Linked DNA regions of Homo sapiens. The protein of the gene in region 2 purifies or fractionates together with the protein of the main gene of each other region. This does not show direct contact. Each region holds a gene or a part of one and is shown on either strand. Other genes may lie near its edges. The genes, in order: FAM83H, C6orf141, RAB3GAP1 and RNASEH2A.

What was found.
Region 1: the proteins of C6orf141 (region 2) and FAM83H purify together in Homo sapiens (co-immunoprecipitation; 3 studies listed by BioGRID and IntAct, with this or other methods). This does not show direct contact.
Region 3: the proteins of C6orf141 (region 2) and RAB3GAP1 purify together in Homo sapiens (affinity purification with mass spectrometry; 2 studies listed by BioGRID and IntAct, with this or other methods). This does not show direct contact.
Region 4: the proteins of C6orf141 (region 2) and RNASEH2A purify together in Homo sapiens (affinity purification with mass spectrometry; 2 studies listed by BioGRID and IntAct, with this or other methods). This does not show direct contact.

Annotation. Positions count from the first base shown.
Region 1 is NC_000008.11:143,723,135-143,731,597, reverse strand, and holds the end of FAM83H (protein FAM83H), read left to right. Parts: intron 1-1,000; 5' UTR 1,001-1,015; coding exon 1,016-1,462; intron 1,463-2,274; coding exon 2,275-2,439; intron 2,440-2,506; coding exon 2,507-2,631; intron 2,632-2,874; coding exon 2,875-5,677; 3' UTR 5,678-7,665; downstream 7,666-8,463. UniProt on the Homo sapiens protein: May play a major role in the structural organization and calcification of developing enamel. May play a role in keratin cytoskeleton disassembly by recruiting CSNK1A1 to keratin filaments. Thereby, it may regulate epithelial cell migration.
Region 2 is NC_000006.12:49,545,519-49,553,145, forward strand, and holds C6orf141 (uncharacterized protein C6orf141), read left to right. Parts: upstream 1-5,149; 5' UTR 5,150-5,274; coding exon 5,275-6,009; 3' UTR 6,010-6,577; downstream 6,578-7,627.
Region 3 is NC_000002.12:135,054,647-135,063,109, forward strand, and holds part of RAB3GAP1 (rab3 GTPase-activating protein catalytic subunit), read left to right. Parts: intron 1-3,364; coding exon 3,365-3,440; intron 3,441-8,463. UniProt on the Homo sapiens protein: Catalytic subunit of the Rab3 GTPase-activating (Rab3GAP) complex composed of RAB3GAP1 and RAB3GAP2, which has GTPase-activating protein (GAP) activity towards various Rab3 subfamily members (RAB3A, RAB3B, RAB3C and RAB3D), RAB5A and RAB43, and guanine nucleotide exchange factor (GEF) activity towards RAB18.
Region 4 is NC_000019.10:12,809,030-12,815,049, forward strand, and holds the end of RNASEH2A (ribonuclease H2 subunit A), read left to right. Parts: intron 1-1,041; coding exon 1,042-1,179; intron 1,180-1,287; coding exon 1,288-1,375; intron 1,376-4,053; coding exon 4,054-4,177; intron 4,178-4,298; coding exon 4,299-4,437; 3' UTR 4,438-4,611; downstream 4,612-6,020. UniProt on the Homo sapiens protein: Catalytic subunit of RNase HII, an endonuclease that specifically degrades the RNA of RNA:DNA hybrids. Participates in DNA replication, possibly by mediating the removal of lagging-strand Okazaki fragment RNA primers during DNA replication.

The DNA.
Region 1 (8,463 bases), on a different chromosome or scaffold from region 2:
GTCAAAGGTAGGCCAAGGGAAGGAGGGGGTGCTGGGAGACAGGGACGGAGTCTAGGGATCAGTGTTCCAGGACTGGGCGGTCATAGAATGGGCTGTGGGAGCCCAATTGTGAAACCCTGAGGATGGGGAGGAGGTGTGGCCCGGGACTATGTGTGGGGCTTAAGGTTGCCATTCCAGGAGGAGGGTAGTCACAGCCCTGTTTGCTGCGCTCACCTTGGGCTAGGCGTGGTGTCATGTGGACCCTCAGCTGTGTTGTGCAGTAGAGGTAGGCCAGAGAGGTGCAGTGACCTACCCACAGTCTCCCAGGCAGTCAGAGACGGACACATGGGCAGCATGGGCGGCACCAGCTTGTCCAGTAGGCACAGTGCCAGGGGTCCGTGAATGTCTTAAAATAAGAAAAAAGTGAATATTATAATGATGAATGCAGCCTGGATTGTTTGTCTTTAAGCCAACAGTCATGAAATATTTGGGGGGGGGGGTTCGTTTTATTTTTATTTTTTGTAGTGATGTGGTCTCACTCTGTCACCCAGGCAGGAGTGCAGTGTCACAATCATAATTCACAGCAGCCTCCAACTCCTGGGCTCAAACAATCCTTCTGTCTCAGCTTCCCAAGTGCCTGGGACTATGTGTGCACGCCACCATGCCTGCCTAATGTTTAAAATTTTTTGTAGAGATGGGGTCTTGCTGTGTTGCCCAGGCTGGTTTCAAACTCCTGGCTTCAAGCAGTCCTCCTGCCTCAGCCTCCCAGAGAAAGGAGAGACAGGGCTGGGATACCTGTGCCCCAGCCCTCTGCCAGTGTCCCCTCAGCTAGGGGCATCCTAGGGTCTGGGTTGCTCTCTGTGAGCCTGGTTCGGCTGGTGCCCTGGAAGGCCTCCTGGGCATGGGCTAAACTCCAGCCTACCCAAGTCACTGACGGCCCTTTCCACAGTGTGTCCATGCTCGAGGGTAGGAGTGGTCCCAGTGCCCCCACCCCTAGTCATGTGTCTCCCTGCCCCTCCAGGCCCCTGGCCCCAACATGGCCCGTCGCTCTCAGAGCTCCTCGCAGGGGGACAACCCACTGGCACCCGGGTACCTGCCGCCTCACTACAAAGAGTACTACCGCCTGGCGGTGGATGCACTGGCCGAGGGTGGCTCGGAGGCCTACAGCCGCTTCCTCGCTACCGAGGGGGCACCAGACTTCCTGTGCCCTGAAGAGCTGGAACATGTGAGCCGACACCTTCGGCCTCCGCAGTATGTTACCCGAGAGCCACCTGAAGGCAGCCTTCTCGACGTGGACATGGATGGCTCCTCGGGTACATACTGGCCAGTGAACTCAGACCAGGCCGTGCCTGAGCTTGATTTGGGCTGGCCTCTGACCTTCGGCTTCCAGGGCACCGAGGTGACCACCTTGGTGCAGCCACCGCCCCCCGACAGCCCCAGTATCAAGGATGAGGCCCGCAGGATGATCCGTTCCGCCCAGCAGGTGCGCCATCTTGGGCTTGAGGGTAGTGGGGGAGGGGCCTGGGCTAGAGGCACGGGGGTGGAGGAGATGCATGAGCATGATCAGCTTGAGGGGTGAGCCTGAGCTCCAGCTGGAGTGGGGGTCCCTGGCAAAGATCTTCAGGGCTGCCAGGTCTCGGTCATCAGGGGCTGCAGGCTCTGCACAGGTCTGCTTGCCTGTGGTCATGGCCAGTGCCCAGAAACTCGGGGGCTCTGGGGATGGGTGGGCACCCCACCAGCCTGGGTTCATTGTTCAGATAATTACCTCTCATCCTGCCCGGTGGCCCTTGGCCAGCTGAGGGCTTCTAACCATCACCAAACAGCTAGCAGACGGCGGAAGGTGCTGTTAAACCATAGCGACTGAGGCATGAGGTCCAGACGCTAAAGGCTTGTGACTTTCTCCCCTGCCCAGGGCAACAACCCCGTCCCAGGGCAGAACTGGAGCCTGGCACTTGGCCCTGACAGCTGCCCTGGAATGGGGGCAGCTCAGCCGTCTGTAGGGTGGAGGGGATTGAGGGGCCCTTGCCGTGCCCCAACCTGGCCCACCCTCATCCAGGGTTCTCTGCCCTGCACCTGCCTCGGTTTCCCCCTTATGGCCAGCCGTTCCACACCTCTTCTGTTTGGTCCCTTCTTCCTGCCCATCTTCCCAGATGTGGCGCCAACTCCCTAGGATGGACTAGCTTGTTTCACAGTGGTCGTGGGTGATCCAGACACCTCCCGGGTGTGGAGGGGAGGCTGGACAATGGTGTGGGGACAGCAGGGGCCTCTCCTCTCCGTCCTGACCCGCCCCTGCAGGTGGTGGCCGTGGTGATGGACATGTTCACTGATGTGGACCTGCTCAGCGAAGTGCTGGAGGCCGCGGCCCGTCGGGTCCCAGTCTACATCCTGCTGGATGAGATGAACGCGCAGCACTTCCTGGACATGGCCGACAAGTGCCGTGTCAACCTGCAGCACGTGGATGTGAGTTCCCGGGAGTGGGAGATTGGGGAGGACCCGTGGGAGAGATCTGACTCCCCTCCCTCCCCAGTTCCTGCGCGTACGGACTGTGGCGGGCCCCACCTACTACTGCCGCACTGGGAAGTCCTTCAAGGGCCACGTCAAGGAGAAGTTCCTGCTGGTGGACTGTGCCGTGGTGATGAGTGGGAGCTACAGGTGCGCCCGCGGGGCTCCCTCACCCCCTTCTCTGGGGCCTCCTCCTGTAACCCCAGCACCCCCTTTCCACACCAGGGCCCTCCTCGCCAGGAGCCCTTGTCCTGTAGACCCCTGCACAGCCTAGCCGGGCCCAGGTCCTTGCAGACCTCACATCCCTGCGTCCTCCGCGCCCCACCCGCTGCCCACGGGGCTGCAGTGCCCTCGCTCCAGCTCGGTTTGACTCTGGCCCTGACCCCCCCACAGCTTCATGTGGTCCTTTGAGAAGATCCACCGCAGCCTGGCGCACGTGTTCCAAGGAGAGCTGGTCTCCAGCTTCGACGAGGAGTTCCGCATCCTCTTCGCGCAGTCCGAGCCGCTTGTGCCCTCGGCCGCGGCCCTGGCCCGCATGGACGCCTATGCCCTGGCTCCGTATGCCGGGGCCGGGCCTCTCGTGGGCGTCCCTGGGGTCGGGGCGCCAACCCCCTTCTCCTTCCCTAAACGAGCGCACCTCCTGTTCCCGCCACCCCGGGAAGAGGGCCTGGGCTTCCCCTCCTTCCTCGACCCGGACCGCCACTTCCTGTCGGCCTTCCGCCGGGAGGAGCCGCCGCGGATGCCGGGGGGCGCGCTGGAACCGCACGCGGGGCTGCGGCCGCTCTCGCGGCGCCTGGAGGCCGAGGCCGGGCCGGCTGGGGAGCTCGCGGGCGCGCGGGGCTTCTTCCAGGCGCGGCACCTGGAGATGGACGCCTTCAAGCGGCACAGCTTCGCGACCGAGGGCGCGGGCGCCGTGGAGAACTTCGCGGCCGCGCGGCAGGTGTCGCGGCAGACGTTCCTCAGCCACGGCGACGACTTCCGCTTCCAGACCAGCCACTTCCACCGTGACCAGCTCTACCAGCAGCAGTACCAGTGGGACCCGCAGCTCACGCCGGCGCGCCCGCAAGGCCTGTTCGAGAAGCTTCGCGGGGGCCGCGCGGGTTTCGCGGACCCGGATGACTTCACCCTGGGCGCCGGGCCCCGCTTCCCGGAGCTCGGACCCGACGGGCACCAGCGGCTGGACTACGTGCCGTCCAGCGCGTCCCGCGAGGTGCGCCACGGCTCGGACCCCGCCTTCGCGCCCGGACCCCGCGGCCTGGAGCCCAGCGGAGCCCCGCGCCCCAACCTGACCCAGCGCTTCCCATGCCAGGCCGCGGCGAGGCCGGGCCCAGACCCCGCTCCCGAGGCGGAGCCGGAGCGCAGGGGCGGGCCCGAGGGGCGGGCAGGGCTGCGGCGCTGGCGTTTGGCCTCCTACTTGAGCGGCTGCCACGGCGAGGATGGGGGCGACGACGGCCTACCGGCGCCCATGGAAGCGGAGGCTTACGAAGACGACGTGCTGGCTCCCGGGGGCCGGGCACCTGCCGGCGACCTGCTCCCCTCGGCCTTCCGCGTCCCAGCAGCCTTCCCCACCAAGGTCCCGGTGCCAGGCCCGGGCAGCGGCGGCAACGGCCCAGAGCGCGAGGGCCCGGAGGAGCCTGGCCTGGCCAAGCAGGACTCATTCCGCTCGCGCCTGAACCCCCTGGTCCAGCGCAGCTCCAGGCTGCGCTCCTCGCTCATCTTCAGCACGTCACAGGCCGAGGGCGCGGCCGGGGCTGCGGCGGCCACTGAGAAGGTGCAGCTGCTGCACAAGGAGCAGACGGTCAGCGAGACGCTGGGGCCCGGCGGAGAGGCCGTGCGCTCCGCGGCTTCCACCAAGGTGGCGGAGCTGCTGGAGAAGTACAAGGGCCCAGCCCGTGATCCCGGCGGCGGCGCGGGCGCCATCACCGTTGCCAGCCACAGCAAGGCCGTCGTGTCCCAGGCGTGGCGGGAAGAGGTGGCGGCCCCAGGTGCCGTGGGGGGCGAGCGCCGCAGCCTCGAGAGCTGCCTGCTGGACCTGCGCGACTCCTTTGCACAGCAGCTGCACCAGGAGGCGGAGCGGCAGCCGGGAGCCGCGTCGCTCACCGCGGCGCAGCTGCTCGACACACTGGGCCGGAGCGGCTCCGACCGCCTGCCTTCCCGCTTCCTCTCTGCCCAGAGCCACTCAACGTCCCCGCAAGGGCTGGACAGCCCTCTGCCGCTGGAAGGGTCCGGAGCGCACCAGGTGCTCCATAATGAGTCAAAAGGGAGCCCCACCTCGGCTTACCCTGAGCGGAAGGGGAGCCCCACGCCTGGGTTTTCCACTCGAAGAGGAAGTCCAACTACAGGATTTATCGAGCAGAAGGGGAGCCCCACCTCAGCCTACCCCGAGCGCAGGGGTAGTCCGGTGCCCCCCGTGCCGGAGCGCAGGAGCAGTCCGGTGCCCCCCGTGCCGGAGCGCAGGGGCAGCCTCACCCTTACCATCTCCGGGGAGTCCCCGAAGGCCGGGCCCGCGGAGGAGGGGCCGAGCGGCCCCATGGAAGTCCTGCGCAAAGGCTCCTTGCGTCTTAGGCAGCTGCTGAGCCCCAAGGGCGAGCGGCGCATGGAGGATGAGGGTGGCTTCCCAGTGCCGCAGGAGAACGGCCAACCCGAGAGCCCGCGGCGTCTGTCACTGGGCCAGGGTGACAGCACGGAGGCTGCCACAGAAGAGCGGGGTCCGCGGGCGCGCCTGTCCTCAGCCACGGCCAACGCCTTGTACAGCAGCAACCTTCGGGATGACACGAAGGCCATTCTGGAGCAGATCAGTGCCCACGGCCAGAAGCACCGTGCGGTCCCTGCCCCGAGCCCCGGCCCGACCCACAACAGCCCCGAGCTAGGCCGTCCACCGGCTGCTGGCGTCCTGGCCCCAGATATGTCCGACAAGGACAAGTGTTCAGCCATCTTCCGCTCGGACAGCTTGGGGACCCAGGGCCGGCTGAGCCGCACGCTGCCAGCCAGCGCGGAGGAGCGCGATCGGCTGCTGCGCCGCATGGAGAGCATGCGCAAGGAGAAGCGCGTGTACAGCCGCTTCGAGGTCTTCTGCAAGAAAGAGGAGGCCAGCAGCCCTGGGGCAGGGGAAGGCCCCGCGGAGGAGGGCACCAGGGACAGCAAGGTGGGCAAGTTCGTGCCCAAGATCCTGGGCACGTTCAAAAGCAAGAAGTGAGTCTTCTGGCCTGGCAACCCAGGCCAGGGTGCCCGCATCGCTGCCCCGGTCATCCAGAAGCCCCGCGGAACAGAGAGCCCTGCTCATCTGCTTGAGCAGCGGCTGTCAGGCCACGGCCGCTTGGGGCTTGGCTGAGTGCGCCAGACCTCGGCTCCACTGGAGGCTCACCTGGCAGCTGCCGTCTCTGCCCCCTGGCCTCCCCAACGCTGGGGCTGCACCCCTCGCCACCAGTGCCTTTCTCCCCTCAGCACCTTCATCTCTGCACCGTCAGCCTTGCGTGGCGCAGCGTCTGGCTCCGCCATCTCTTTGTGCCTCAGTCCCCCCCGCCCCCTTTATTTTTTTGAGACCTAGGGCTGGAGTGCAGTTGAGCGGTCTGGGCTCACTGCAACCTCTGCCTCCCGGGTTCCAGCGATTCTCCTGCCTCAGCCTCCTGAGTAGCTGGGATTACAGATGTATGCTACCACGCCCAGGTAGTTTTTGTATTTTTAGTAGAGACAGGGTTTCACTATGTTGGCCAGGCTGGTCTCCAACTCCTGGCCTCAAATGATCAGCCCGCTTCAGCCTCCCAAAGTGGGGGGATTACAGGCGTGAGCCTTGCACCCCGCTAAGTCCCCTATCCTCTTGCAAGGGTCTCGCCTCTGTGCCTCAATTCCTCATTCTCTGGGCCCTTCTCCTCCTCAGGGCCTCCTGTTCTCAGGGCCTCCCCCCTCCCCGCTCCCTCCCTCTCTCAAGGTCTCCTCCTTCCCTCCCCCCCCCCCCCCCCCGTCTCCCCCCTCCCCCGCCTGGGCTTCACTTCCTTTCCTACTTGGATTCTCCTGCTCGCTGCCTCCCAGCATCTTTTTTGGAGGCCCGTCTCTTGCTGTGGGGAAGACTGGGCTGGCTGCGGGCAGTTTGCAAGGGGTGGGTGGGGCAGGGGGGGGGGAGCTGGACCAGAAGATGCCCCTTGGAGTGGCAAGGAAGCTGGACAGGGCAGGCCTCTGGGGACGGGACACAGGGAAGCCCGAAGGGGCGCCTTGGCCAGGTCTGCCATCTCCTCCAGCGAGGCTCTGGCCAGCACTGGGTGAGAGTGGGGAGGGGGCATTGGCCTTTGCAGCACAGTAAAACATGGTCCAGACAACCTGTGGCCCCGGCCTCATGAGCACCCCCTGCACAGGCCCGGCCCAAGCCAGGCGCTAGAAGGGCTGGTTGTGGAGTGCTTATCCTTGACAGGTATGGGGCCAGGTGAGGGCAGGGGACAAGGTGCAGCTGAGGCCGAGCCCAACTAGGTCCTGGGCACCCCTGCAGGTGGGAGTGGTCCTTGTCCTCCTGGTATCCAGCAGACACCCCCCTCTCCCCACCAGCCCCATTCTCAGGTCCTTTCCTCTTTGTCACCAACACCAAGAATCTGTCCAGGGTTCTTGGCTTATCTTTTATCTCTTTTCACTCCTAGAGAGGAATTGCAATTGACTCAGAATGACACATTTTGGCACCACGTGTGTAGAAAGCCCCCACTGTTAGATGATAGCCTCGTGAAATTCATGTTTCTGTATTCTCCTATTTCTTTTCAAAAACTAATTTTTTTTTTAGTGTAATAAATCCTAAGAGGGAACTGATTTAAGAAACAAGGCCGCCAAACAAAGGCAGCAGTTCCGACTCCAGCAGCTGGGAAAGGAAGGAAAGTGACCCCACTTTCACTCCTGCACAGCCCACTGGTTACCAAAACCACCGTGCAAGTCGGGATGACAGCAGGGACTTCTGGCCAGGTGGGAAAGGTGCCTGGAAGCGGGATGCGCCTGTGCGTCTCTTGGCCATGATGTTCTTGTGGGCATGTTATTCTTGGTGCTGCCTGGGGTGTTGCTGAGCGGACAGGCTCTCCAGCTGGAGTCCATGGAGAGGCCAGAGGCTGGCGGCCCTGCCTGGGCCTTCGGAGCCTCCTGCCTGCACCCTCCACCTCTTCTAAACCATGATGTGGCACATTTTGGTGTTAATAAAACACAACACACAAAGTATTCTAGCATGTTCCCCAGTGTGTATAATCGCCCAGTTACATCCTGCAGCCTTTAACCACGTGGCCTCCCAGATTTCCCCTGTGGACCCACCACCCACCCCTGTGGGGGGCACTAAAGACCCCCCAGCTCCACTTCCAAGGCCCACCTTGGCCTCCCCAACTTCACGCTGCTCTCCTGTCCCTGTCCCCGATGCCCCCTGTGCAGGCACACTCCTGGGTGCCCACCTGCGATTCCCCACTCAGCAGCCCCACCACACACTGCCCAGCCTGAGGCCAAGCCTCCAACCCTGCAGCCCCGTGGCCTCTCTGCAGCTTCCTCTCCCACAGCCTCTCTGTCCTGCTTGTTCAGCACCCTGGGCCTGCGCCTTGGGCTTTTGAAGCTCAACAAGCACCTCCCTCGGCAGCCCCCTCAGGAAACAGCCCCTGGGCTGGGTCTCTGACTGGCTCACCGCTTCCTCGGGCCCTCCCGATCCCTCCTCCGCCTCCTCCAACCTTCTCCCAAACCCAGCCTCCCTTTCTGAGTCTCTTGCAGGTGCCTGGTCCAGCACCAGGGCAGCGCCAGCTCTCACCTTCTGCTCAGCTCCCCCACCCACATCTTGTCCTTCCCCGCCCTCCCCCATGGTGGCAATGGCTTCCACAACCCAGCAGCGCCCCTCTCCTGGCAGCCCAACACCGACCACAGCACAGGCCGCACCCTTCAAACTGTGAGCTCCTCCGGCCTATGAGCTTCCCAGACTGTGAGCCTGGCAGCCCAACTCCGCCACCGACAGCACAGGCCGCGCCCTTTAGACTGTGAGCT
Region 2 (7,627 bases):
TTTTAGCAGAGATGCAGTTTCATCATGTTGGCCAGGTCGATCTCCAACTCTTGGTCTCAAGTGATCTGCCCACCTCGGCCTCCCAAAGTGTTGGGATTACAGGCATGAGCCATCACACTTAGCCTACGAAATGGTCCTTAATCTTAGTTACGCGTTGATCATTTCAGATGGGGTGGTGCAAAAAATGGTCTTGCCTGCACCCCCTCATTCAGTCTGATCAAATAGTATCAGGTGAGGCCTGAACTTCATGTACAACCACAGTTGAGAACAACCACTAATCTATTTCTTGATGAAATTGATATGTGAGTGAGCACAACCTGTCATAACATGGCAGGCTCATTTATCTCTAAAGATGAAAAATATTATCTGAATATATTTATTTATCAACTGACCTAATAAGAGTAAGTGGGCCTAAGAGTCTTTGCTGAAAGACTCTTGTCTGAATTGTGAATTCTGTTGCCAAAAGCACTAATGGACAACTAATCTGCCAATATTGTATAGACTCATAGAGTGTCACATTAACTCTACAACCAGATACAGAAACAAAAACTGTAGCTAATATGCTTAAATAGAAGAGTTCTTCTTTGTCCTTCTACTTGCTACAACTCTGTATTTCCCACTTAAAAGTAAAATCCTATTAATGTATTGTTTTATTTGATTGATATATGTATTCAATTGATGCATTGCCGCATTTCTTAATCAGCCACTTCAAGCTGATTGTAACCAAGTAACTACAAATCCATTCCTGCTCCAATGTGTCCCCCTCACTTTCTACCCACAATGTATGTATCTACTTCATTTGGGAGTACAACATTATATGCTTTCTAAATTGACAAGTTTTACATTTTAGTAAACAAAGACCAGCAGGAACACTCCTGTACTAAAGAAAAATAAGTTAGGTTTATTTTTCTTGCTTCAGCAGCTAAGAATGCACCCTTGAGTAATTATGGGATAATTCACTAAGTGGATTTGGGAGAGGCTTTGTATAGGATTTGGACTAGAGATGATAGTCCTAAATAAGATTTAAGGAAGCAGGAGCCAGTGCTGCATTAGATGTTGTCAAGAACTGGGATCAACTCCGTGATAGGGTACCTTGGTGACTTTTATCTAGGAAAGGAGAGGATTAAAGTAGATGTAGACCAGAAGTATCATTAGTAAAGGATTGATAGTCACTTCTGTTAGCTATAAGAGGGGGATGTTTAATCTTCTTTACGGTTTTTAGTGTTCTTGTCTGTCTTGTTCCAAACATGGTCACAGAGTGGTTTTATATAAACGATGCTTCTATTCTGAGTTTTGATAATGTTCAGTTGGGATCACCATGGCCTGGCCACCTGAAGGGCCACTTTTTGCTTTCTCAGAAGTTAAAAACTGTTGAATAGACAAGTTTTTCAACTCAAGAATGTTATATCTGATTGGGGAAAAATAAGCTATGAAATATTGCTACAGTTGTAAATTAAAGGCAGAGGTCTGCAAGTGGAGAGTAAACCTTCGGAAGGCAGAATTGCTCAAATGATTGAGAGTGTCATAAGTATGTAAAATAAGTTCTAGTTCTAATAGGCAAAATAAGAGGGACTGGTCTTTGGTTAGATTGGGCTATTAATTAAAGTCTTCTTCTTTTGGCCCTACCAGGGCAGAGCATGTGCTGATGATCCCCAATAATTTTACAGATCCCAGAAATATAAATTTCTTTATTACCCCTCATTGGCCTGCATATTTGCAGCTATAATGGGCACATCAGAGAGGAAGTAAATGGGTTCACTTTAGTGTCCTCTATCAGTCTTTTAGGCACTTTGAGATATTAATGCACAACAGACACCACTATCCTTGAGGCAAGCTGCCTGTTTTTCTGGTTGATATTCTTTTTAGACTTTACCTTTTTGAAGATTGATTTATTTAGCATTTCCCCTTCATGTTCTTTCATGCATTAATACATAACTTCTTGACATCTAGAAATTCAAGTGCAATATGACAAATGAGTCTGCTTCATTCTTCAGCAAATAACTTTTCCTCTTTTCTCATCCCCCTACTCTAATATCTCATGCAATCCACAATGGCAAGAAAACTATTTGAAAGCAATAAATGTTGTGGTTTACATTATATTTCCCTTAAAATACAGATACCTTATTGGAATTCTCCCAATATTCTTCAAGGAAAGAAAATATAGTATTCTTGTTGCAACTCTAAATAAGCAAAAAAGTGTTAGAGTTTATCTATACATATTTTTGGAAATGCTTCTCATAATGTCCATAAACCACTAGGTTAGAATTACTGAGGGATTTGCTAAAAATCTGTATCCTAATCTCTACCCCAAACCTATAAGAACAGAATCTTTGTAAGGAGGGTAAGACTTGAGCTGCAGGTAATTTTCATGTATATTAAGGTTAATTGATTATCTCCTAGTTCTGAACAGAGGATTGATGTATGTTACTGCATATATAAGAATAACAACTTTAGGCCGGATGTGGTGGCTCATGCCTGTAATCCCAGCACTTTGGGAGGCCAAGGTGGGTGGATCATCTGAGGTCAGGAGTTTGAGACTAGCCTGGCCAACATGGTAAAAGTCCGTCTCTACAAAAAATACAAAATTAGCCAGGTGTGGTGGCACATACCTGTAATCCCAGCTTACTCAGGGGGCTGAGGCAGGAGAATTGCTTGAACCTTGGAGGTGGAGGTTGCAGTGAGCTGAGATGGTGCCATTGTACTCCAGCCTGGGCAACAAGAGTGAAACTCTGTCTCAAATAAATAAGTAAATAAATAAATAAATAAAATCTTTAAGAGGATAAGCAATTTGGTTTGTTCCTCCAGATGTCTCTATCACCTAGAAGAGTAGCATATAGTTAGTAATTAGTGGTTATGTAAATGAATAGAAAAGAACATGAAGTCACAGGCTTAAAATATGAAGGTAATTTAGAAGTCATTTTGGAGCAAGCATTTAAATAAGTTAGAATCTTGGCTCCACTGTTTATTGGTGTTTGACCTTGGGCACACACTTAACCTCTTTGTGCTTCAAAGATTTCAAGGAGACCAAAGAAATACTACTACTTTCACAGTTTATTGTGAAGAATAAATGTGTTTAAATATATAGAGTGCTTAGAACAATTCTTGGCTAAGACACTCAAAAATTTGAGCTCATTGTGATTGAGGAGAAACCAGCCCAAGGTCAGGCATGTATATTTTTTGGTTGTTTTTGTTGTTGAAGAGACAGAGGTCTCACCATATGGTGCAGGCCAGATTCCAACTCCTAGGCTCAAGACACCCTCCCACCTCAATCTCCCAAGCAGCTGGGATTACCAGTAGGCGCCGCTGTGCCCACTAAGGTCAGGCTTCTAATCACCCAGGTCTGACCCAGATTTTCTCACTCCTCCTCTATCACTTTATTTCTTTATATGATTTGGCAGATATCAAAAGTCCTCCCTTTCCAAATATCTCACTATACTACTTTGTTTTTTACATATGGGCAGAATTTTTCACCATTGCACTCATTTTTCTAAATCAGGCAGGATTTAGATTTCTCTTTCTTTCCTTTCTTTTTTTTTCTTTTTCTTTTTTTTTTTGACAGATTCTTGCTCTAACACCCACACTAGAGAGCAGTGGTATGATCTTGGCTCACTGCAACCTCCCCCTCTCCCGTTCAAGCGATTTGGTGCCTCAGCATCCCAAGTAGCTGGGATTACTTACATGTGTGTACCACCATGCCTGACTAATTTTTGTACTTTTTGTAGAGACTGGGTTTCACCATGCTGACCAGGCTGGTCTCAAACTCCTGGCATCAAGTGATCCACCGGCCTCAGACTTCCAAAATGATGGGGCTACAGGTGTGAACCACCACACCCAGCCATCAGTGGGTTTTTTAATAAAACAAACAGCTAAGGATGAACTGGAAACCACAAACTGAGCTCTTTTTCTATGACCTAGCCTCCCCGGTTAACCTTAGGCAAAGAGTAGTGGTCAGCGGGCCTGCCTATGGGTAAATTCTAAAAGCCTCGCCAGAGACACTTAACTTTTTTTAACCCCTGTGGTTAAAGAGGACGGGTGGGTGCAGAGGGAATTTTATAAACGACACAAACACAAACAATTTTAAGTCCTGAAAAAATTCATTTGGATGTTTGTTTTGCTTCTGTTTTATAGCTTGTTTTAAATCAAAGACTACACCTTCCTGAGACAAGCGTTGATTACACACAAAATGAAGACTGGCCAGGGCCGTGGCTCAAGCCTGTAATCCCAGAATTTTGGGAGGCCCAGGTGGGTGTGTGGGTAGGGTGGGGGATCCTGGGTATCTCGTAAGCCCAGGAGTTCCAGACCAGCCTGGGCAATATAGGAGAGCCCCACCCCTACCATCTCTTAGAAAAATATAAATAAATAAATAAATAAATAAATAAATAAATAAATAAATAAAAGCCGGGCATGGGGGTGCGCGCCTGTAGTCCCGGCTACTTGACGGGCTGAGGTGGGAGCCTGGAAAGTCGAGGCTGCGCCACTGCACTCTATCCTGAGCTACAGAGCGAGACCATATCTAATGTGGGGGGGTGGGGTAAGAGGAAGGGGGAGCGGGGAGAGGGAGAGAGAAAGAGAGCGGGAAAAAAGAAGGAGGAGGAAGAGGAGGAGGAGGACACAGGTGTGACCATTGTCCTCCAGAGCTACAGATTCTGGCATTCTAAAGGAAGAAGGACAAAGAAACCAAAACCAGTTTCTCCAAGGCTTCAGCTTTTCAGTCTGACCATTTGATCTACATTCCATTATTTTGGCAGCATGGTGGGAGTGGATTCGGAATGGACAAAAACCCTTTTCAGAATTAGATCAGCTAATTAAAATGCACACAAACTTCTTTGTTCCTTCACCTCAAGGAGCGTCCTTGGAAAGCAAACATACTTCGGGGCATTTCAGTGGGGGCGCAGTGCGAGGGTGTCCTTTGCGCCTCAGCTCCGGAGAAAAACGAAAGGTGGGTGGGAAACTAGGATAGAGGTGAAAAGTAAGAGGGGACTGAATCAGCGAATGACAAAGGGAGCAGGGCTCCGGACAGGGGTAGGAGGAAGAAGAGGAGTGACTGGGGCTTGTGTCAAGCTTCTTCTGAATGGCTAGACAGCCGCCAGGTGGGAGAGGCGGAGGGTGAAGAGGCGGGTTCCGCACGCGGTTAGCCTGGGGCTGATCTAGTCTTCAGCTTTCACCGGCTGGGAGTCCGGAGCTGCAGCAGAGGCCACACCCAGGGCTTGGTGGTCCCGCGCTTTCCGGAGCTCAGCAGGCGCTTGCTGCTTGAACCGGTCAAAGAAGGAACGAATGAATGACCCTTTTGCCAGGATGGAGACCCGGGGGCCTCAGGGAGCTGCGAATCCCATGGACTCCTCCCGCAGCCTGGGGGACCTCGGGCCTTTTCCGCGGGAGGTAGGGCGCGGGGCTCCGCTAGCTCCGGGCGCCCGGAATCCCGCGACGGCAGGGGCGAGCCGAAGCCAGGGCGGCGGCCACGAGGACAGAACGGCAGATCGGGCCCTCGGACCTCGGGCCGGGGAGGAATTGGACCGTGAGTCCTGGGTCAGAGAGAAAGTGCTCTTTCTCCTGCACCCAGAGAGGTGGTTAGGGACTCGAGGGGACCCTGCACGGGAAGAGGTGGCCGGTGCAGAGGACCTTCCTCATGCGGGTGGAGAGGACCACGGCGAGGAGCCCAACTACCCTTCTGTCTTTCAACGACAAAAGCGAATTTCTGGCAGGCGTGTAGCCCCGCCGCGGGACGCAGCAGACCCACCCAAATACGTGCTTGTGCGGGTGGAGGATTATCAGGTAACACAAGAAGTGTTGCAGACCTCCTGGGCCAAGGGTCGCATGACCACGAGGACTGAGGAGCACTTCGTGACCGCGCTCACTTTTCGCAGCAGTAGAGAGGGACAGCCTGGGGAACGCTGGGGCCCTGCTGAATCCCGGGCTCTCCAGGCACGAACAGGGGCATCCCGCGTCCACGCCGCGGGGAGGAGGGTTTCACCGTCTCCAGGGACTTGGCTCGAGGAAATTAAACTCTAATGAGTAGCTCGAGAAATGTTCCGGGATGGTGGATGAGCGATCATCCTTAAAAGAAAATGCTATTCTGGGAGCTCCAACCTGCAATTAACCTACAGAAGGAACCTTTTGAGAGGCTGGTGCAGCGCTTCGGGGAGGCAGATTAAGAACTGTAAGCAGCATAATACCTCCTTTGTGGCTTGAATTCCTTCGCTGTCTGGGGACCTAAGTCATTCAGAAGAGGTGGAGAAAAGATATTTTCAGATTGGCAGAATGTGGGAGTTTTGAAATGAGAAAACCTGTTGTTAATTTGCATTTTGGAATAACTCTCAATTGATCTCTTTTCTGTTCCCCGCCCCCCTCTTGTTTCTCTTTAGGACCTAGAAACAGAAGTGAAGTTTGAAGTCTGCTCTCTGCAAAGAGGGTGGGAGTGGGTGGAGAAGAGGCTTGTTTTAAAAGCCAAAAACAGAAAGTAAAAAGAAATGGGAAAGTAAAACCAAAGCAGCAAGTGACTCTCTTCTGATGTGCACTTTTCATTTTTCTCCCCCACATTTCAGTGTTAGAAAGAAAACGAGAGGAGCTAGGGAAAGAAGGAGTTGGGGACAGAAGACTAAGATTTCAACGTGAAATTCCATTTACAAAGGCTTTACTGCAAACAATAGCTAATTTAGTCCTGTAAACATGCATTTATCATACATTTTAATTTTAATATTAAAAATACTGCATGTAAATGTTCTGAACTAAAGGTAGATAGCAATATGTAGTTTGCCATAAAATGAATGCATGTCTTATTCTTTTCCATAGTTCTTCATTAATGAGACTTGTAGTCAAGAATAGATTGAAGATACCATTCTCCTTGTGTAGTTCAAAAAAATCTCCTCTGGTAATACTGAAACAACTAATTTTTCTTATTTTGTTTGTTCCTCTTTATTATTAAATACTATGTGAATTAACTCTTTAGTAGTTGGCCTGGTTGAAGCTCTGTGAGGAGCAAAGCAGCCCTCTCCAGGTGAACTGCTTGACTTTACCACCTGAAGGAGTATTTACTGCAAGAATTAACAAAGCAGGTAGGACTCTGGCTTTTGATGAGCAAATAGTTGAAAAGTGCCTCCTTCCCCAGTCTTCCCTTTTGCCTTCATTTTTAGTTTAGAGCTTGAAGTGTTCTCAAAAGATCATCTGATCTACCTCTTGCCTCCTGGCAGGCCAGATAGATAAGATGCCCCTGTTTTACTCATGAGCCAACCTAGGCCTAGAGGTCTTGTAGCATGTCTAAGTCACACAGCTAGTAATTGCATATGCTTACTAAGTGGATGAAGAATGTGATAATCTCCCTCCTAAAGGTTTGGGGCAGCCTTTAGAGGATTTATTTGACCCTTACTTAGGGGTCAAAAGATGCCTGAGGATATCCTAGGTTTTCTTTCTTTTTCTATTTTTTTCTTTTTTTTGAGACAGAGTTTCTCTCTTGTTGCCCAGACTGCAGTGCAACGGCACGATCTTGGCTCACCACAACCTCTACCTCCAGGGTTCAAGCGATGCTCCTACCTCAGCCTCCTCAGTAGCTGGGATTACAGGCATGTGCCATCACCCCGGCTAATTCTGTATTTTTAGTAGAGATGGGGTTTCTCCATGTTGGCCAGGCTGG
Region 3 (8,463 bases), on a different chromosome or scaffold from region 2:
TGTAATTCAAATCTTGGAGGGTGGGGTAGGGAAACATCAGTTTTGAATGGAAAAATGATCACTTTCCCCTAGTTAAAAATATCCTGAAGTGGAATATTAAGTCCTTTAGCTTTGCATATGGAAATAATTATTAACACCGTTATAAGAACTATTGCAAAGTAGAAAATTTGGTTTTTGGCTTTTACACTGTAGTGTGCATTTTACAATTCATGAGAGAAAATGTTAAGACTTTGAAGTCTCAAACCTTGAGTTTAATTTTAAATGAAAGATCTTGTGAGTACAATATGTTATGAACTATATAGATAATTTATTGAGAGAACTGTATAGAAGCCCATAACTCTTTTTATCATTTGTTCATTGACAATATTTATTGAATCCCCATATGTCAAGCACAGTGCACATTACGGATTTAGGGATGTGGTGGTTAGTAAAACAGGTACGGTTTCTGCTTTTACTAAATGTGCAGTCTAGTGCATTACAGACACAAATCAAGTAATACAAGTCTGTAATTATGAGTTTATGTAAGAGCTAGAAAGGGAAAGAAACCTGGTCTTATAAGAGCCTATAACAGAGGGACCTAATATAGAATAAGGAATCAGGAAATGACCCTTCATTTCCTGAGAGCTTTTAAGGAAAAAATTACTTAGTTTTTCTAGTCAAATCTCAATACTTGTAGGATAAAGTCCAAGTCTCTTAGCTAGTACTGATAGAATTCATTATTCATACAATAAGTATTTTAAGACATTCCTGGCCGGGCATGGTGGCTCATGCCTGTAATCCCAGCACTTAGAGAGGCTGAGGCAGGCAGATCACTTGAGCTCAGGAGTTCAAGAGGAGCTGGGGCAGCATGGCGAAACCTTGTCTCTACTAAAAATACAAAAGCTAGCTGGGCATGGTGATGTGCACCTGTAGTCCCAGCTAGTCAGGAGGCTGAGATGGGAGGATTGCTTGAGTCCTGGAGGACAGAACTGCAGTGAGCTGTGATTACACCACTGCATTCCAGCCTGGGTGACAGAGTTGAGACCCTGTCTCAAAAAAAAAAAAAAAAAGACATTTCTTCTTTTACTGTAAAAACTATATTTTAAATAGTTTTCACTATAATAGTAATACCTTATAGTAGAATAAAAAATAAAAATCACCTGTAAACTTAACACCAGGAAATAACTGCTGTTAATTTTTTGACATATTTCCTTTTTTTTTCTTTTTTTGAGACGGAGTCTCGCTCTGTCGCCCAGGCTGGAGTGCAGTGGCGCGATCTCGGCTCACTGCAAGCTCTGCCTCCCAGGTTTACGCCATTCTCCTGCCTCAGCCTCCCAAGTAGCTGGGACTACAGGTGCCCGCCACCACGCCCGGCTAATTTTTTGTATTTTTAGTAGTGGCGGGGTTTCACTGTGTTAGCCAGGATGGTCTCGATCTCCTGACCTCATGATCCGCCCGCCTCGGCCTCCCAAAGTGCTGGGATTACAGGCATGAGCCACCACGCCCGGCCGACATATTTCCTTCTAACGTGTGTTAAAAACTTTTTTGGATCAAATATTAATATTTCTTTTTCTTTTTCTTTTCTTTTTTATTTTGAGACAGAGTCTCACTCTGTTGCCCAGGCTGGGGTGCAGTGGTGCAGTCTTGGCTCACTGCAACCTCTGCCACCTGGGTTCAACCAATTCTCCTGCATCAGCCTCCTGAGTAGCTGGGATTACAGGTGCCTGCCACCGCGCCTGGCTAATTTTTGTTGTATTTTCAGTAGAGACGGGGTTTCACCATCTTGGACAAACTGGTCTTGAACTCCTGACCTCGTGATCCACCCGCCTCAGCTCCCAAAGTGCTGGGATTACACGCGTGAGCCGCTGTGCCTGGCCTTTGTATATTTTCTTTTGATTGACATGATTTTTATTGGGTGCATATTAGTCCTCTGAGTGGATTAATTTACAAGTATTTCCTGCAGTTGGGCATTAAGGTAACTTCCAGTTTTTTTAGCTTCGTAAATATAGTATACATTTCATGCAAATTTTTGCTTGCCTGTGGATATATTAAATTTTTCCTCTTTGGTAAACATGTAAACTTGTTTCTAGAGCACTGATTTTCAAACCTAGTAATTGTCATTTGACTGACCTCCCCCATGAATTAGTGTATGAATTGATACTGCATTTAATTTTAAAGAGGAATTAGTAAGAAGCCTCAGATGAATCATAGATTTATTATTACTATCTTAAAACATAATTATTAGTTCATATTAGTTCATAATGTCACTGAAGGAAAAAATCTGTTGCCTTTCCATACAGTTTGACTAGAATTAACTCTAGTACTCTAGCAGTACTTCCAGGTGTTTAGAGAGCAATGTTGCTGTTAGATTGCATCATACTTAGCTTATATAAGAAGTCAACTTAGAGTAAGAATAATTCTTCTGAAAATGTCTTTGACTGAGACTTGACAGTTTTCATTTACTGATGTTGAGCATGTTGCTACTCAAAATTCAGTTCTCTTTTTAATAGGCCTTCTTGACCATTGGATTTAAAGATTGGTGACTAGTTTTAAGACCTGTCACTTATACTTAAAGTTGACATATTTACTTGCAATTTCTTGTCAGCTGTCCATTAAAACTTGTTTTAGTTTCATGAACCAAGTTACCAAATAATATTTTCTTTTTTTGTTGGGGGCTGGGGGGGTAAATCGGAATTCCTAATATATTTAAAGGAAAAGTTTATTTAAATAGGTCAGTTATTGTGGGTAGGAGAGAGATGATTGGTTTCATAATTTTATTTATTTATTTATTTTTGAGATGGAATCTCACTCTGTCGCCCAGGCTGGCGTGCAGTGGCGCGATGTCCGCTCACTGCAACGTCCGCTTCTATGTGATTTTTGTGCCTCAGCCTCCTGCGTAGCTGGGATTACAGATGTGTGCCACCACACCGGGCTAATTTTTTTTGTATTTGTGCTGGGCTGGTCTTGAACTCCCAACCTCAGGGTTAGGAATTCAAAGGGCTGGAATTACAGGCATGAGCCACTGCACCCAGCCCATAATTATCTTTAATAGTATCATTTTAGTCTGTCAGTTTTTATTTGTGCCCCAAATTTGTTTTATTCGTTTTATTAGAGATTCATCAATTCTTAATTTACATTTTATAGAAGGCAGAATGCTTTTGTTGGGTAAGCAATAGATATAAATGAATCAAAACCTAAGAATTCTTGAATGAAAGAAGATTATTTCTCTTACCCCATATCCATAAATTAAGCTAGCAATACTAAATGTACTGAGTCCTCTCTGGTCAAATTGTTAAAATATAAAAAATACCTTTTTAAAGAAATTACATAATAATAGGAAAAAAGGTGTGCTGTTGTATTTAGAAGCTTTCTCCCTACTTCCTAGGTTTATTTCCAAAGTTGAAGAAGTCTTGAATGACTGGAAACTGATTGGAAACTCTTTGGGAAAGCCACTCGAAAAGGTCAGATCTATTTGCTGGTGTCTCTAAATGACTATTTACTTTGAAACCTCTATTTTCCAGCCCTTTGCTGCATTTGGCACATTTGAATTAAATGTTTTTTAAAGTTACGTATAATCTATAAACATCAAATAGCATTTGGAAGAATTTGGATTTAAATCTGTGGCAAATGATATATGTAAGACATTTGTGAAATGTTTAATAAAGTTATATATATGTGTGTGTGTATATATATATATATAAAATGTCATTCTTTGTGAGTGATTCTTTGTGAGTGAAGTTTGCTTCTCTTTTGCCTTCTCCCTTGGAATGTTAAAACATGTTTTTAAAAGTTTTTTATTTGGTCAGAGAAACATTGCAGTGACCATCTTCTTTGGTAGCATATTTTGCTTACTAATGAGGAAAATTCTAGTACTTACCATTGACTTACTGTAGTTAACAACTATTTCACTCAGTTTTTGTATTTTATAATATCACTAATAACATCCCCCTTCCCTTTTAAGCTTTTTAACTTATGGATGTTTTAAGGATTTTATTTAAGAATGAAAAAATTACTCTTTGAAATTGAGGTAGAAATCAAATTCTAATCTAAAGTATTGGTAGTTTTATTCATAAACCACACCCCAAATGTTTACTGAAGAATGTACTCTGAGAACAAACCTGGATTCACTGTGAAGGGATCTAACAATTTGATTTTAAGTTTATGTAGATGCTTAGTTTGTTAGATAAATTCTTTTGAAATAAAATTTATGGTTGGTTTTATTACAACTCAATATTACTAACTCAGTGATAACTTATTAACTCAGTAATTATTAATTCAATAGTAATTTAATTATAATTTACCCTGTGTTAGGAACTTTGAGTTCTCAATATTTGCTAGGGGTTTTCAGCTTTGTGATGGTGATACTATCAAAAAAGAGACTGTCAAAATGCATTAGGAAGCCAGGCAACATGGTGAGACCCTGTCTCTTAAGGAAAAAAAATCTCCTTATTTGTATCAATATGAACAGAAAAAGTAAGACCACATATAAAAAATACATCATTCAAAGACTCTTGGCAATATATACATTGATTTACTACACTACATGTGTGAATAAAGAAAATGTGACGCTTTCAAACACGGGTCATTCTACTCCACTTGAAACAAATACATAACAATTGATATAGATGCCAATAAGATTAGAGGCAAAATAAGCTGGATATAGCTAGAATAGGAAATGATTTACACTACTAAGAAGAGAGCTAAACCGGGTACTTATGAGCTCTGATATTCTTTCATTCTTTGATTTACATGTATTTACTGAGTACCTGCTATGTGCCTGATGTGAAGAAATTGTGAACAAGATAAGATCAGTGTTGCCATTGAACATAAATTCTAGTGAGGGTGATCAGTAAAGAAACATTAAAATTTTATTTTATTATTATTTTTTAAATTGATATATGATAGATGTACATATTTTGGGGTACATGTGATAATTTGATACATGCATATAATCAAATCAGGGTACTTGGGAACCCTTAAATATTTATCTTTATGCTAAGAACATGCAAGTTACTCTCTTTTAGCTATTTTGAAATGTACAGTCAATTAGTGTTAACTAAAGTCACTCTAAGGGTTAAAGTTTTAGATGCTAAATTCAGTTTTGGGATTTAAGTGGGTAGTTATTTAAAGTAGGTAGCATACTGCCAGGCATGTAGTAGAGGCTAATGAAGTCATAGCTCCAGTCTGTTTCTCCCTACTAGATAGTAGTACATAAATAAGATACAGAAAATATGGGCAGATTTCAAGGTGAGCTGTAACTATGATGAATATGAAGAAAGTGTAGAGGACAGGGATTGTTTGGTGTAGAAAACAAAGTTTAGAGACTTCCTTTGAAGATTTTAACTTATATGAAGGACAGTGATTATTAATTTTCTCCTCCACTGAGGGGGAATTAAGGGAAATTATTTATTAAAAACCTTTAATTATGGAAAATTTCAAACATATATGAAGTAAACAGAATAGTATAATGAACTCCCATGTACCCATCACTTAATGTCAACAATTAATACTTTGCCATTTCTTGTTTGAGTGGTACCTCTGTTTACTCCCCTACCTCCACTAGATTTTTTTAATAGTTTTTTTTTGGGTAAGATTTATATACATTGTAATGGACAAAACTTAACTGCTTGATTTTTTTTTTTTTTTTTTTTTGAGACCGAGTCTCGCTCTGTTGCCCAGGCTGAAGTGCAGTGACATGATCTCAGCTCACCGCAACCTCCACCTCCCGGGTTCAAGAGATTCTCCTGCCTCAGCCTCCCAAGTGGCTGCGACTACAGGCACCCGCCACCACACCTGGCTAATTTTTTGTATTTTTTAGTAGAGACGGGGTTTCACTGTGTTAGCCAGGATGGTCTCGATCTCCTGACCTTGTGATCTGCCCGCCTCGGCCTCCCAAAGTGCTGGGATTACAGGTGTGAGCCACCGCGCCTGGCCAACTGCTTGATTTTGACAAATGTTCACATGGGTATAACTTACACTCCTGTCAAGATAGAGGTCATCTCTGTTACCCCAGGAAGATCCTTAGTGACCCTTTCTAGTTAATTCCCATGCCCTCCAGTCATCTGCTATTATTATTATTGTTATTATTATTATTATTTGAGACAGAGTCTTGCTCTGTTGCCCAGGCTGGAGTGCATTGGTGTGATCTTGGCTCATTGCAACCTCTGCCTCCCGGGTTCAAGCAAGTCATATGCCTTAGCCTCCCAAGAAGCTGAGACGACAGGCATATGCCACCTTGCCTGGCTATTTTTGTGTTTCTAGTATTTTGTATTTTCACCACGTTGGCCAGGCTGGTCTCCAATTCCTGGCCTAAAGCAATCTGCTTGCCTGGGCCTCCCAAAGTGCTGGGATTACAAGTGTGAACCACTGGGCCCAGCCTTTTTTTTTTTTTTTTTTTAAATAAACATAAATTACTGTCACCTGCTTTAGAACTTTACATTTAGGTGACCATAAATGTCCTTGACATCCTTTACTCACGATAATGTTTTTGAGATTCATCTAGGTTGTTGTACATACCAGAATTTCATTTCTCTTTATTGCTGTGTAGTAAGTGATCTGTTTTATGAATATACATGGTTTCTTTCACTTGTCCACATACGTACTATTAGGAATAAAGCAGAACATTATTGTATGAGGCCTTTTGTGGGCATATGTTTTTATTTCTCTTGAGTAAATACCTAGGATTGGAATCACTGGGTAATAGGATAGGTGCAACTTTATAAGAAACAGCTAGAGCTTTTTGTACTGTTTTACCTGCCCACCATCAATACATGGGAGGTTGTGTTGCTATACATTCTCACCAACAATCAGTTGTTTGCAGTCATGTATATTTTAGTCATCTTAATGGGTATGTAGTTTGTGCTTTTAATTTATATTTCTCATTTTGGTTTTAGTCTGTATTTCTGTGATGATATTAATATTGACCACTTTGAATTTTCATGCATTTATTAGCCATTTGTTTATCTTCCTTTGTGAAATGTCTTTTCAAGTTCTTTATCCATTTTAAAAATTGGATTTTGTTTTTATTGAGTTGTAGGAGTTCTTTTAGTTTTTTTTTGGTATATATATATTCTGCTTTTAAGTCTTTTCTCAGTAGTTTTGCTAGGTTGTGAAGATGTTTTTAATGCATTTTTCTAGAGGGTTTACCAATTTATCATTTAACCTTTGTTAAGGTCTATGATTTATTTTGAGCTACTATATGGAGGGAAGTAGGGATCAAGTTTCTTCTTCCTTTTTTTTGTGTATGGATATCCTGTTGTTCTAGAACCTACTTTGGAAAACACTTTTTCCATTGAGTTGCTTTGTCACCTTTATTGAGTAGTTGACCTAAGTGGTCTACTTCTGGAGTCTGTATTCTGTTTCATTAGTCTATTTGACTATCCTTATGTCAATACCATATTGTCTTTTTCTTTTTTTTTTGAGACAGAGTCTCACTCTGTCACCCAGGCTGGAGTGCTTGATCTTGGCTCACTGCAGCCTCCTGCCACCATGTTGGCCAGGCTGGTCTTGAACTCTTGACCTCAGCTGATCCGCCCGCCTCGGCTTCCCAAAGTGCTGGGATTACGGGCATGAGGCACTGCGCCCGTCGTATATTGTCTTGATTACTGTAGTTTCAGGTTTCCTAACCTTGGCACTATTGACATTTTGGGCCACATTGTTGTGAGGCTGTCTTATGCATTGTCAAATATTTAATAGTATCTTTGGTTTCTACCTGCCAGATGCCAGTAACATGTTTCCAGTTGTGACAACCAAAATTGTATCCAGATATTGCCAAATGCCCGCTGAGGGGCAAAATTGGCCCCAGCTGAGAACCATTGAATGGATTTTTAGTAAATCCTGATGTTAATGTAAATTCTCCATTTTTGTTGTTTTCCCAAGATTTTAGATCTTTTGTGTTTCAATTATGAATTTTAGAATAGGCTTGCTAATTACTATAAAAAGGAGTATGATTATGCTGAGACTGTAATTGGGGTTGGGTTGAATTTGTAGATCACTTTGGAGACATTTTAACAGTTTTGAAAGTTCTAGTCATGAACATGGCACATCTCTCCATTTATTTAGGTCATCTTTAATTTTCCTCAGCAACATTTTGTAGTTTTGGTAGAGGTCTTGTATATCCTTTGTTAAATTTATTACTAAGGATTTTATGTTGTATGATGCAAAAATAAATGGAATTGTTTTTTAGTTTTGTTTTCCAGTTGTTCACTGCTAGTACATAGATACATGGTAAAATTTTGTATGTTAACTTTGTGTCATAACGCCTGGCTAAACGCACTTATTAATCGTGATCATTTAATTGTTCTGCATTTTTCTACATTAATAATTATGTTGCACACAAATAGGGACAGTTTTACTTTCTTTCCAATTTTTATACCTTTATGACTGTTATTGTACTATCCCAGACCTTCAGTGACATGTTGAGTAGAACTGCTGCAAGTAGACATCCTTGCCCTCTTTAAATGTGAAGTGGGGGGAAATGTTCAA
Region 4 (6,020 bases), on a different chromosome or scaffold from region 2:
CAGACAAGGGCCCTACCCGTAGGCGTTCAGGGCCTAGCCTGGGCAGAAAGATGGTCAGCTGGAGGTTGGGCGCAGTAGCTCACGCCTGTAATCCCAGCACTTTGGGAGGCCGAGGCGGGCGGATCATCAGGTCAGGAGTTCGAGACCAGCCTGACCAACATGGTGAAACCCCATCTCTACTAAAAATAAAAAATAAAAAAATAAAACATGAAAGATGGTCAGCTGGTAAACAAAAAATAAAGGTTGTTTCTGAAAACAGTAGTGCTGTGGAGATACCACTTTCCCCCAGCAGCTCTTGGACCCTCTCTTCGGTGCTGCAGCCAAAGGCCCCCATGCATGGGCCCAGCATCATGAACCTGGTCCCAGCTCAGGGCCTTTGTACTGGCTGTTCTCACACCTAGAGCCCTCTTCCCCAGATCTCTGCACAGTTCACTTCCTCACCTCCTTCAAGCCTTTATTCACCACTACACCTAGCTAACTTTTTATTTTTTGTAGAAACAGGGTCTCCATATGTTGCCCAGGTTGGTCTCAACCACCTGCCCTCAAGCGATCCTCCCACTTCGGCTTCCTAAAGTGTTGGGATTACAGGCTTGTGCTAACGCACTCTACCAATTTTTTTCTAGTGTTTTCTGCCACCTCAGTTCCTAGAACAGTATGTGGCATGCAGTAGGTGCTAAATAAGTTAGAGTAAAAGCAGCGTGATAGAGAAAGCCTCTTCAGGAGGTGAGTTTTTTCTTTATTTTATTGTATTTATTTTATGTTTTTATAAAGATGGGGTCTCACTGTGTTGCCAAGCCTGGCCTCAAACTCCCAGGATCAAGCGATCCTCCCGCCTCAGCCTCCCAAAGTGCTGGGATCACAGGCCTGAACAACTTTGCCTGGTCTAGGAGGAGATGTTCGAGTTGAAATCCCTGATTGATCCATCCTGGGGACGTGCTGGAGAAGAGGATTCTGGGTAGCAGGAAGAACGTGCCAGGGCTGTGAGGCTAGAGCATTGGTACAGTTGTTTGTTCAATTAATATGTGTCTGTTGCTGTGGCAGGTATTCGTGGACACCGTAGGGATGCCAGAGACATACCAGGCGCGGCTGCAGCAAAGTTTTCCCGGGATTGAGGTGACGGTCAAGGCCAAAGCAGATGCCCTCTACCCGGTGGTTAGTGCTGCCAGCATCTGTGCCAAGGTCAGTACCCTACTAGCCATGGCTGGCTTCCACCATCCCACTATATAGGGGCCAGGCATGGCCACCAAAGGGAAGGAGGGAGATTCCAGGTGCCTGTTTTGCCCACAGGTGGCCCGGGACCAGGCCGTGAAGAAATGGCAGTTCGTGGAGAAACTGCAGGACTTGGATACTGATTATGGCTCAGGCTACCCCAATGGTGAGCAGACACGTGACCATGGTACTAATGTTGAAATGGCCAGGGCTGAGCACACTTCTGAGGTTTTCTTTTTTTCCTTTCTGTCATTTATCATTTTATTTTGCTTATTTTTTGTTTTTATTTGTTATTTTTGTTTATTTTTTGAGACGGAGTTTCGCTCTTTTTGCCCAGGCTGGAGTGTAATGGTGCGATCTCGGCTCACCGCAACCTCCACCTCCTGGCTTCAAGCGATTCTCCTGCCTCAGCCTCGCGAGTAGCTGGGATTACAGGCATGTGCCACCACACCCAGCTAATTTTGTGTTTTTAGTAGAGACTAGTTTTCTCCATGTTGGTCAGGCTGGTCTTGAACTCCTGACCTCAGGTGATCTGCCTGGCTCAGCCTCCCAAAGTGCTGGGATTACAGGCATGAGCCACCGTGCCCAGCCTATTTTTTGTTTTTATAGAGATGGGGTCTTGTCATGTTGCCCAGGCTGGTCTCAAATTCCTGGAGTCAAGCAGTCCTCCCACCTTGGTCTTTCAAAGTGCTGGGATTACAGCCATGAGCCACCACCCCTGGCCCTTTTTTTCTTCTTTTTTTAAAGAGATGGGGTCTCCCTATGTTGCCCAGCCTGGTCTTGAATTCCTGGGCTTAAGTGATCCTCCTGCCTTGGACTCCCAAATAGCTAGGATTACAGGTGTGAACTACTGTGCCTGGCTGGAGGTTTTCTAAATTGCTCTGGTCACCCTACTCCACAGTGAAAGAGGCCAAGTGTTAGACAGTGGTGCCATTTGTTTATGGCCACACAGCCAGTGAGTGATAGAGCTGAATTCCAGGCCATAGGATTGCTGCTGTCTTCCCCGCTTCCCACTTTGCTGTCTTTCTGGAGCCCCAGTGATGGACTGAGACCCAAGGTGGGCATTTGTCCCTTTGTTAAGGGGAAGGGGACCAGGCGTGGTGGCTCATGCCTGTAATCCCAGCACTTTGGGAAGCTGAGGTAGGAGAACCGCTTGAGTCCTCGAGTTCAAGACCAGCCTGGGCAACATAGCGAGACCCCCATCTCTATAAAAAATTTAAAAAATTAGCCGGTTATAGTGGTGCCCACCTGTAGTCCCAGCTACTCTGGAGGAGGAGGCTAAGGTGGGTGGGTTGCTTGAGCCCAGGAGTTGGAGGCTGCAGTGAGCTATGATTATGCCACTGCACTCCAGCCTTGGTGACAAGATGAGATCTTGTGTCAAAAAAAAAAATAATGTTAGCCAGGCGTGGTGGCTCACACCTGTAATCCCAGGACTTTGGGAGGCTGAGGCAGGTGGATCCTTTGAGGTCAGGAGTTCTAGACCAGCCTGACCAACGTGGTGAAACCCCATCTCTACTAAAAATACAAAATTAGCTGGACGTGGTGGCACACGCCCGTAATCCCAGCAACTCGGGAGGCTGAGGCAGGAGAATTACTTAAACCTGGGAGGTGGAGGTTGCAGTGAGCCGAGATCGCATAATTGCACTCCAGCCTGGGAAATGAGCAAAATTCCATCTCAAAATAATAATAATAATAATAATAATAATATTTAATGACAGGCTGGGCCAGGTGGCTCATGCCCGTAATCCTAGCATTTTAAGAGACAGAGGCAGGTAGATCATGTGAACTCAGGAATTCACAACCAGCCTGGGCAATATGACAAGACCCCATCTCTACAAAAAATACAAAAATTAGGTGTGGTGGTGCGCACCTGTAGTCCCAGCTACTTGGGAGGCTGAGGTGAGAGGATGGCTTGAGCCTGGGAGGCAGAGGTTGCATTGAGCTGTGATAATGTCACTGCACTCCAGCCTGGGTAATAGAGCGAGACCCTATCTCAAAAAAATAAAAAGGCTGGGTGTGGTGTTTACACCTGTAATCCCAGCACTTTGGGAGGCTGAGGTGGGTGGATCACCTGAGGTCAGGAGTTTGAGACCAGCCTGCCTGTCCAATATGGTGAAACCCCGTCTCTACTAAAAATACAAAAATTAGCCAGGTATGGTGGTGGGTGGCTGTAGTCCCAGCTACTTGGGAGGCTGAGGCAGGAGAATCGCTTGAACCTGGGAGGCGGAGGTTGCAGTGAGCCGAGATCGCACCATTGCACTACAGCCTGGGTGACAGAGCAAGACTCCATTTCAAAAAATAAGTAAATAAAATAAAAATGTTTAATGACTTGTTCTTGGAGGTCAAGGAGATGTCTCAGAGGCAGTCTCCCTGCACTGCCCTTTTAGCAGCTCTTGGCCAGGTAAAGGTCCTGTGGCAAGAAGGTGCTTCAGACCATAGGAGGTGCCCCAGGTACTCAGGAGGAAGCCTTAGAAGAGCGGCAAGGAGGCCGGGCGTGGTGGCTCATGCCTGTAATCCCAGCACTTTGGGAGGCCGAGGGGGGTAGATCACGAGGTCAAGCAATTGAGACCATCCTGGCCAACATGGTGAAACCTCGTCACTACTAAAAACACAAAATTTAGCTGGGCATGGTGGCATGCGCCTGTAGTCCCAGCTACTTGGGAGGCTGAGGCAGGAGAATCGCTTGAATCCGGGAGGTGGAGGTTGCAGTGAGCTGAGATCGCGCCACTGCACTCCAGCCTGGCTACAGAGTGGGACTCCATCTCAAAGAAAAAAAAAAGAGTGGCAGGGAGCTTGAATGTTATGGTGCAACTTGGACTGTCACCATTGCCCACCCTACCCCAGATCCCAAGACAAAAGCGTGGTTGAAGGAGCACGTGGAGCCTGTGTTCGGCTTCCCCCAGTTTGTCCGGTTCAGCTGGCGCACGGCCCAGACCATCCTGGAGAAAGAGGCGGAAGATGTTATATGGTGGGTGTCATGGATGTCCTGGGGGTGCTATAGGGAAGGAAGGAGGGAGGCCAGCGTTCAGCCCTGCCTGAGAGGGTTGCTCCCTGTGTAAGTGGTCACTGTCATCACCTCTCTCCCACAGGGAGGACTCAGCATCCGAGAATCAGGAGGGACTCAGGAAGATCACATCCTACTTCCTCAATGAAGGGTCCCAAGCCCGTCCCCGTTCTTCCCACCGATATTTCCTGGAACGCGGCCTGGAGTCAGCAACCAGCCTCTAGCAGCTGCCTCTACGCGCTCTACCTGCTTCCCCAACCCAGACATTAAAATTGTTTAAGGAGAACCACACGTAGGGGATGTACTTTTGGGACAGAAGCAAGGTGGGAGTGTGCTCTGCAGCCGGGTCCAGCTACTTCCTTTTGGAACCTTAAATAGAATGGGTGTTGGTTGATTAATTTTATTTGGTTTGATTTTTTTCATTTTTAAATTTTATTTATTTTATTTTATTTTATTTTATTTTTTTGAGAGACGAAGTCTCACTCTGTCACCCAGGCTGGAGTAGAATGGGGCAATCTCAGCTCACTGCAACCTCTGCCTTCCAGGTTCAAGCGATTCTCCTGCCTCAATTTCCCAAGCAGCTGGGACTATAGGCGTGTGCCATGCCCAACTAATTTTTTTTTTTTTTTGAGACACAGTCTCCTGTTGCCCAGGCTGGAGTACCATGGCACAATCTTGGCTCACTGCAACCTCCACCTCCCTGGTTCAAGCAATTCCCCTGCCTCAGCCTCCTGAGTAGCTGGGATTACAGGTGCACACCACCACACCCGGCTAATTTTCTTTTCTTTTCTTTCTTTCTTTTTTTTTTAATTTGAGACAGAGTCTCACTTTGTCACCAGGCTGGAGTGCAGTGATGCAATTTTGGCTCACTGCAACCTCTGCCTCCTGGGTTCAAGCGATTCTCCTGCCTCAGCCTCCCACGTAGCTGTGACTACAGGCATGCGCCACCACACTCAGCTAATTTTTGTATTTTTAGTAGAGACGGGGTTTCACCACGTTGGCCAGACTGGTCTTAAACTGCTGACCTCAGGCAATCTGCCCGCCTTGGCCTCTCAAAGTGCTGGGATTACAGGTGTGAGCCACTGCGCCTGGCCTAATTTTTGTATTTTTTAGTAGAGACAAGGTTTCACTATATGTTAGTCAGGCTGCTCTCTACCTCCTGACCTCAGGTGATCTGCCCACCTCAGCCTCTCAAAGTGCTGGGATTACAGGCATGAGCCACTGCACCGACCTTTTTAGTTATATTTTTAATTTTTAAAAATTTTTAAATTTTCTTTCTTGAGATGGAGTCTCGCTCTGTCACCCAGGCTGGAGTGCATTGGCTCAATCTTAGCTCACTGTAACCTCTGCCTCCCAGGTTCAAATGATTCTCCTGCCTCAGCCTCCCGAGTAGCTGGGACTACAGGTGCGTGCCACCAGGCCTGGCTAATTTTTTGTATTTTTAGTAGAAACACGGTTTCACCGTGTTAGCCATGATGGTCTCAATCTTCTGACCTTGTGATCCGTCTGCTTCAGCCTCCCAAAGTGCTGGGATTACAGGCGTGAGCCGCCATGCATTGCCTATTTTTATTTAAAAAATTTTTTGAGACAGAATCTCACTCTGTCACCCAGGCTGGAGTGCAGTGGTGCGATCTCAGCTCAGTGTAACCTCCGCCTCCTGGGTTTAAGTGATTCTCCCACCTTAACCTCCTGAGTAGCTGAGGTTCCAGGCACACGCCACGATGCCCAACTAATTTTTGTATTTTTTGTAGAGATGAGGTTTCATCATGTCGCCCAGGCTGGTCTTGTAGTCCTGGGTTCAAGTGAT